Linked DNA regions of Homo sapiens. The protein of the gene in region 2 interacts with the protein of the main gene of each other region in a pairwise test. Each region holds a gene or a part of one and is shown on either strand. Other genes may lie near its edges.

Region 1 (3,746 bases), on a different chromosome or scaffold from region 2:
CAGACTCAGCCGCTCCCCTCATTCATGCTGCAGCTCATTCACTCGCTGGCGCTGGCAGGCTGCGGCTGGGCGCCGCCACTCGCGCGCACTCGTGTGGCAATTTATTTCTGGCCCTGTGTGCGTGTGTATGGGGGAGAGGGAGCGAGGGAGGCGCTCTCCTCTTAGAGGGGGATGCTTTTTCACTTCCAGGTAGAATCGCTCCCAGGCTTTATAGTATTCGCTGCCCTGGACCACGCACCTGGGTGGGGCACCGCGCTAGGCACTTTGCATGCATTATCTTGTTTAATGCCCCACGGCCACCTTTCCAGGTAACCTCATTTTACAGCTGAGGTACTGATAAGTAGAAATGTTCAGAAAAATCCCCCACATCAAACAGATAGTGAATGATACAACTGAATTGGATTCCAACGCTAGTCTTCTCGTCACTGTACCACATAACCTGTTGCCTCTTTCCTGGTGGCAGTTGCTGGGATGTCACTCATCTCCACCTTCATCCTTATGATGCTGTAATGCAATCCTAACGTCTGACTGATTACCCTGGGAACACATGGCTCGGACAATCTTGAAAGGGCTGAATCCCTAAAGCACTCAGATTTCTCAGCATGGAGGCTGGGGACAGCATGTCTATTGCCCCAAGCCTCTCATGGTTCCAGCTCAAACCATTTCTCACTCTAACCTCAAGCTTCTTTCCCAAAGAGTACTTTCTGAAGAGTGCTCTTAATAAGCATCCACACACACACACACACCAGAGCAATCTGCAGCATCGTGGAAAGTTCACTGAATTTATCAATAGATCTGGGTTCAGTTGCCACCACCATCACCAGCTTTGCAACCCCAGGCAAACCCTTTAACTTCTAAGCTTCAATGGTCTCATCTATACTAAAGGGGAAATAATACATGCCACACCATCTGATGGGATCGTCCTAAAGATGATTAATTATAAACACATTATAAACTGTAAAGTGTGGTCCCCATATCAGGTATTACTAAGCACTCTGTGTTACGGCCTGTTTCAGAGGTGGGTCTCATCTTTGGTTCTGGTTAAGCTTGGGTCAGCAGGAATGACAGGGACCTTGTTCTGTCTTCAGCTTATGATCTGGAAAAGATCATCTTCTTACCTAAGGCGGAATCTGCTTGACTCTCTTGACCCTTCTCAGAGGCTTTCCTCATGATCAATTTATCTGACTCCAGAGCAAGAGGCTGGCCAGACAAGCACTGCAGCCAGACCAGCGTGAGCCCTGGCAGCCATCTCCGGGAGCCTCAGGGTTAATGTTTGTGCGTCAAAGTTACGTGGAGAGAAGGGGCCATGGTGTGGATGGGGGTGGTGGTGGTGGTGAATCCAGACCTCCTTTTAAGATCTTCACTTGAGAGGTAAACTAGGGAAGTTTAAAAACAGAAGGGAGGTAGACGCGCCCCTGGGGAAGGTGAAGGAAGCTGTCTTGTGACTGACAGCGATAGCTCGGCTGCGTTCTGCATCTTAACGCGGCTGAGGATAGGGAGCCTGAAGCCTGTCCACAGACTCCTCCAGGAGGGACTGAGGCTGACTCGTCTTCCTTAGGCTTGCAGAGCCACAGGCTGTTTACAAATCTTTTTGCCATTGGTTCTGCTAATCCTCCCAATAACCCAAAGAGGTCGGCAGAGAGGGCATACTTTATTTGATGGATGGGGTCAGAGAGGTTAAGAGATGAAGGTTGAGCAGGAGGGAGGGGTGCAAGAGAGTTGGAGGTCCTAACACCCCAGCAGATGGACGGGGTCCCTCTAGGCACAGAGCCTTGTCCCTAGAATGCAGGCATTGCAGGAGGGGCACATGAAGATATTTTTCTCCCTTTTCCCTGCCCAGAAGGGCAAAATGCTTCCATGAAAGCCAGCCCAGGAGTGACGGACAGATAGCTCCACCCGGACCCCCCATTCAGACTTATTTTCCAAGACAGCTATAACTCACCCTTGATGCCAAAAGAGTCAGGGAAGACTGGAACTGGGGCTGAAATAAATGCCCAAGTTGCTTACAAAGTGGCTCTTCAAATCCACTCACTAGGTGCTGCACGCTTCCCATTAAGCAAGGAGACCCTCTAAAGCCAAGAAAAGAAGCAGGGTTGTCTTACCCAGGGACTCGGGAAGAATCCTGCTTGAGCTCCCACTCCAGCTCCTACAGGTCTGTGAGGATTAGCTGCTCCAGTGCTTTAACAATAAACCCAATTAAAGGGGAGGAATGCAGGAGTTTTCTTTCCCAGGACCGTAACCACGCAGCCTTAAAGGGGAGTAAAAGTAGCTAGGGTGGCTTGCATCTCTCTTTCCTTTCCTCGGCTCTGCTCACCCTCCCTCCCAGCGTGCAGTAATGAGTCTTATCCAGAAAAATGCTTGTGCATTTTTGCCTGGTGTGTGTGTGTGTGAGTCTGTGTGCATGTGTATGTGAAATTGTGTTTGCATTGATGTGTGTGATGGAAAGACAGAACGGAAGAATGAAAAACAAAAACATCAAATTATAAGTTCCCATTATCCTGAATGGGTGATGACAGAAAAAAATCAGAGAAGCTTTCTAGGATTGTCTGCCTCAGTTTCCTTTTTAACCCCTCAGGTGCTGGTGTATGTTGTCTAAAAACACCTCCCTGAAAAACAGAACATCTACACTGGCTGACATGTAGGGACTGAAGACAGTGTCCACCTTGCTTGTTATCTCTTACAGAACTGGGAGAAAGGGCCTTGGATGTCCCAAAAGGGGCCCCTCAGTTGGACGGTCTCACTCAGTATCTTTGATATGTCTCTTTTCCTCCAGAAGCTCAGCATTCTGGTCCCCAAACCTGTCTCAGTCCTAACCTATGAGACCCCAGGAAATCATTCCCCTCCTCCGGAAACTCTGTGCTCCCTCTGTTTCCTGTACTCATCTCTCCAACCTGGCCCTTGACCAAGGCTTCACAGTCTCCATCTTAGCTTCTCTGGGGCAGTCCCTTTAGTGCAGATTTCTTTAAACTCTGTCATCTGCTCTCTTGTTTTCTCCTTCTCTACTCTCTCCTTAAGGTTACCATCTACTCACAGAGTCTATTACCATCTTCATAAGAATCTCCTCAGTCAACACCCCACCTGGGTTATCATGCTCAACCTCAACATCCAAATGCCCACTGTCACCTACAAACAAGGCTGAATGTGTTATGGCCACCCTCAAACCCACTCTCCTGTTTTCCCCAACTAGGCTAATGAGCTACCATCTTCCAAACACTCAACTGAGAAACTCCAGGGTTTGCTTTGTTTGTGTTGCCTGTTTAATTTGTCTTCCAAACCCATCCAGCTCTTATGCACTTCCATTTGTTCCTTGAAATTAGCTTTTAACTTGTACCATTTCTTTTGTGTCATCTTGTTTTTTGAATAAATAACATATTCATATTGGCAAGAAAATGACCATATTAAAAGGCATACATTGAGATGTGTTACCCCCTTCTACTCGTTATCTGTCCCTTGACCCTGACATTGCCCTCTATAGGTGACCACTTTTATTATGGTATTTCTTTATGCAAATACAAGCAAATATTCACCTCTATGATCTCAGTTCAGGCCTTCAACCTCCCACCCAGGTAGAACTGTGATAGGATAGGGTGAGATGGTGCAGTAGGATAGTTAAAAGTGGCTCTGGGGAAGACTTCTAGGTTGGATTCCTGGGTCTTCCATTGACAGATATGTGGCCTTGGGAAAGTGGCTTAACCTTTCTATGCCTCAGTTTTTCCATCTGTAAAATGGCATAATTATTAAACTTA
Region 2 (3,646 bases):
CTGCCACACAGGATCCCGAAGGCAAGCCGAAGAAGACACACATCCAAGACAACCATGACGGCACGTATACAGTGGCCTACGTGCCAGACGTGACAGGTCGCTACACCATCCTCATCAAGTACGGTGGTGACGAGATCCCCTTCTCCCCGTACCGCGTGCGTGCCGTGCCCACCGGGGACGCCAGCAAGTGCACTGTCACAGGTGAGCCCGCCCGCTGTTGGCCGCTGCGGCGCTCGGCACGGGGCTTGGGTTGTGCCTGTGTGCAAGGGCTCGCTGCTTGGGGCGGCGTGTGGGAGTGGGGGCCGCCCCCTTGAGTGACTCACCTGACCTTTCTCCTTGCTCTCTGCCCTCTCACCTCAGTGTCAATCGGAGGTCACGGGCTAGGTAAGCTGCTTGCTGGGGCCACTCCCAATGCCCCTCCTGCCCAGAGGGGCAGCTTCCTTTCCTCTTGGGGCCGATTCCCAGGACAGTTCCAGCTGCAGCTCTAGGCAGGGACAGAGTTGGGTGGGGTGCAGAAGATGAGGCCGTGGGCTGGAGGGCGAGGGCCCAGGGAGGCTTCCGGAGCTGAGCATGACCGCTCCAGCTCTTCCCCTCTCTGGGCCTTTATTTCCCCATCTGAGAACTCGGGTTGCAGCTGAGAGCTTTGGGGTGAGGTGCATCCTGAGAGGCACCCCACTGGGGACTTTGGGGTCTCGGGATCTTGGCACCCAGGGAGGCACAAGGGCTCCTGCGTGGGCTGAGGGAACAAGGGGTCTCCCCAACTCAATGGGAGCCCCAGCCCTGGCCAGATCCACAGACCCCCATCCCCACCTTCCAGGGGCCTCTGCGTCCCGGGCCGGGGGAGGTGCATGAGCGGGTGGGGCTGGCTGGTAGTGCAGTAGCGCCAGTGTCGACTGCTTGGGCGGCCAGCATGGCGGGGCCCGGCCCAGCCTCAGAGCCCCAAAGTGCATTCTGTGGCCCGTCTCCCTCCTTCCCCCTTCCCCTATCCCCCAGCAGTGACGTTATTCAGACATTCCCCAACAGGCATGGAGGGTCACCTGCCCCAGCCAGGGACACCCAGGGATGCTGATGAGAGGCTACAGGCCTGGCACTTGGGCGAGGTGGCTAAGGAAAGGGTGAGAGGGTGGCTAGAGTTTTGCGGCAGGAGCGAGATGGCTTTATAGAGCAGGCCGTAGGATCCGATGTGTGTGTGACAGGCGTGTGTGCGCAGGGCGGGGGAGGCTGGGGAGTACTGATTGCAGGGCCTTGGGGGCTTTGAGGGTGGGAGCAAGACTCAGTAACCTCAGTTTCCCTGGCTACTGTTTGCAGAATGGAGACAGGGAGCCCGGGGTGGGGAAGGGGGCGCTGAAGTTGCTCTCTGGCAAGCTTGACGGCCACGGGGCTTCAGTGAGAGCCAAATTAGGAGGCATACTTTGAGGATGGAGTGGCTGAGACCTGCGGTTGGCTGGGAGCCGGGCAGGGAAAGTGGGGGCAGTCGGGTACCTGTGAGGTTGGGGCCCAAGCCACTAACTAGATGGCATGGGGTGCACATGAGTGAAGCCTCCCAGGGCAGCGTGGGCAGCCGGCAGCCAGGTCTGGAGCCTGGGAGAGCTGCCTGGCCGCGGCAGGCCAGCATGGAGCCTAGTGCAGCAGGAGCCCTCGGCCGATAGTGGGACTTGGTGGCAGGGCCCCTCGAGCTTGGCCTTCAAGTAGGTTTCGTGCTCCTGGCTGCTTCCCTGGCAGGAGGCCAGGCTGCAGGGGGCACTCTCACTGCCAGGCCTCACAGCCCACAGCCCCCCAAGCCTCCACGGCGGAGACCCAGATCATAACGTCACTGTCTCTCCCCTTTCCTCGGGCACTCTGGGGCCCTGGAGCCTGCTCAGCTGCTCTGCCCTCGCAACCCAGCAGTGGTGGCTGTAGCTTGGGCCTCCTGTTCCCTGTCTCCCTGGGTGCTATCCCCGCTCTGCCAAGCCTGCTGCGCTGCGCTACTCGGGTGCTAACCCCGCTGCCTCCCGCTTCCCCGCTCCCACTCCTGTCTGCACCGGGCTGCTTTTCACCGCGAGCCTTCTCAGTTGTCAGGAAACTCCGGTTTCACCATCAGGCCTGGGGGGTGGGGAGGCAAGTGTCACATCCCCCCACGCTGCAGCAGGACTCCGCCTCACCGCGTCCACACACAGCAATGGGGGCCGGGGCCAGGCCAGAAGGGCGCAGGCAGCCGTGTGCCCAGCCAGATGCTGGCGTTCAGCAGTGTGGGCCATGGTGCTGGACGAGGCTGAGTAGGCAAGGGAGTGGCTGTCAACACTTAGGCTGGAGTGGGCCCTTCCTTTTCCTCCCAGGCACCTGGGTGCTACTGTCGGGCCTCTCCCACATGGGCACTTGAGGTGGTCAGGAGAAACCTTCCTGCCTTCTGAGAAACCACTCGCCATCCCAGCTTGGAGGGGCAGGGCGGGGCAGGAGGCCTGGCGGCCTGGCTGTGCTTGGTGGTGGCAATGAGAGGCCTGTGTGGGCGGCAGGCGGACGGGAACAACCTGAACCCGAGCTCACACGCTGGCCCCCCTTTGGGGACCCACCCTGCCCCACCAGGTGCTGGCATCGGCCCCACCATTCAGATTGGGGAGGAGACGGTGATCACTGTGGACACTAAGGCGGCAGGCAAAGGCAAAGTGACGTGCACCGTGTGCACGCCTGATGGCTCAGAGGTGGATGTGGACGTGGTGGAGAATGAGGACGGCACTTTCGACATCTTCTACACGGCCCCCCAGCCGGGCAAATACGTCATCTGTGTGCGCTTTGGTGGCGAGCACGTGCCCAACAGCCCCTTCCAAGTGACGGTGAGGAGGGGTGGGGGGTAGGTCAGCAGGGGTGTCTGGCAGGTCCCGGCCTGTTCCCCTGGGGCCCCTCTGTGACAACAGACTCTCCAGCAGCTCTCTGCTTTGCCCTGCAGGCTCTGGCTGGGGACCAGCCCTCGGTGCAGCCCCCTCTACGGTCTCAGCAGCTGGCCCCACAGTACACCTACGCCCAGGGCGGCCAGCAGACTTGGGTACGGCCTGGCCAGCTAGGGACACTGGGGCTAGCCAGCTGGGTGTTCTGTGAGCCCCTAGTTTACCATGTGTGAGGAGGGACCCCAGATCCTCCCACTGTCCCTCACCCATGCCCTGTGTCTCCACTGCAGGCCCCGGAGAGGCCCCTGGTGGGTGTCAATGGGCTGGATGTGACCAGCCTGAGGCCCTTTGACCTTGTCATCCCCTTCACCATCAAGAAGGGCGAGATCACAGGTGAGTGGGGACTTGGGAAGGAGCTCGGGAGCCAAGGAGGCCAGACTGTGCCAATGAGCTGCCCTGACCTCAGCCCCACTGCCCCACAGGGGAGGTTCGGATGCCCTCAGGCAAGGTGGCGCAGCCCACCATCACTGACAACAAAGACGGCACCGTGACCGTGCGGTATGCACCCAGCGAGGCTGGCCTGCACGAGATGGACATCCGCTATGACAACATGCACATCCCAGGTGGGCCTGCCCTGCCTCTGCCCACTCCACCGCCACCACCTCACAGAGAGATGGGGCTGGGGGACACACGAGGCTGCCATTCCACAAGGCCCTTCTTCCTGCCTCAGGAAGCCCCTTGCAGTTCTATGTGGATTACGTCAACTGTGGCCATGTCACTGCCTA

What was found. Proteins that work in one complex are often made in the same cells at the same time.
Region 1: the proteins of FLNA (region 2) and CAMK1G interact in binary tests that used the Homo sapiens proteins (3 or more experiments, as listed by UniProt).

Annotation. Positions count from the first base shown.
Region 1 is NC_000001.11:209,582,129-209,585,874, reverse strand, and holds the start of CAMK1G (calcium/calmodulin-dependent protein kinase type 1G), read right to left. Parts: upstream 2,162-3,746; 5' UTR 2,103-2,161; exon of another isoform or gene 1,943-2,102; intron 1-1,942. UniProt on the Homo sapiens protein: Calcium/calmodulin-dependent protein kinase belonging to a proposed calcium-triggered signaling cascade. In vitro phosphorylates transcription factor CREB1.
Region 2 is NC_000023.11:154,353,989-154,357,634, reverse strand, and holds part of FLNA (filamin-A), read left to right. Parts: intron 1-11; coding exon 12-201; intron 202-360; coding exon 361-384; intron 385-2,562; coding exon 2,563-2,810; intron 2,811-2,923; coding exon 2,924-3,019; intron 3,020-3,151; coding exon 3,152-3,254; intron 3,255-3,343; coding exon 3,344-3,484; intron 3,485-3,591; coding exon 3,592-3,646. UniProt on the Homo sapiens protein: Promotes orthogonal branching of actin filaments and links actin filaments to membrane glycoproteins. Anchors various transmembrane proteins to the actin cytoskeleton and serves as a scaffold for a wide range of cytoplasmic signaling proteins.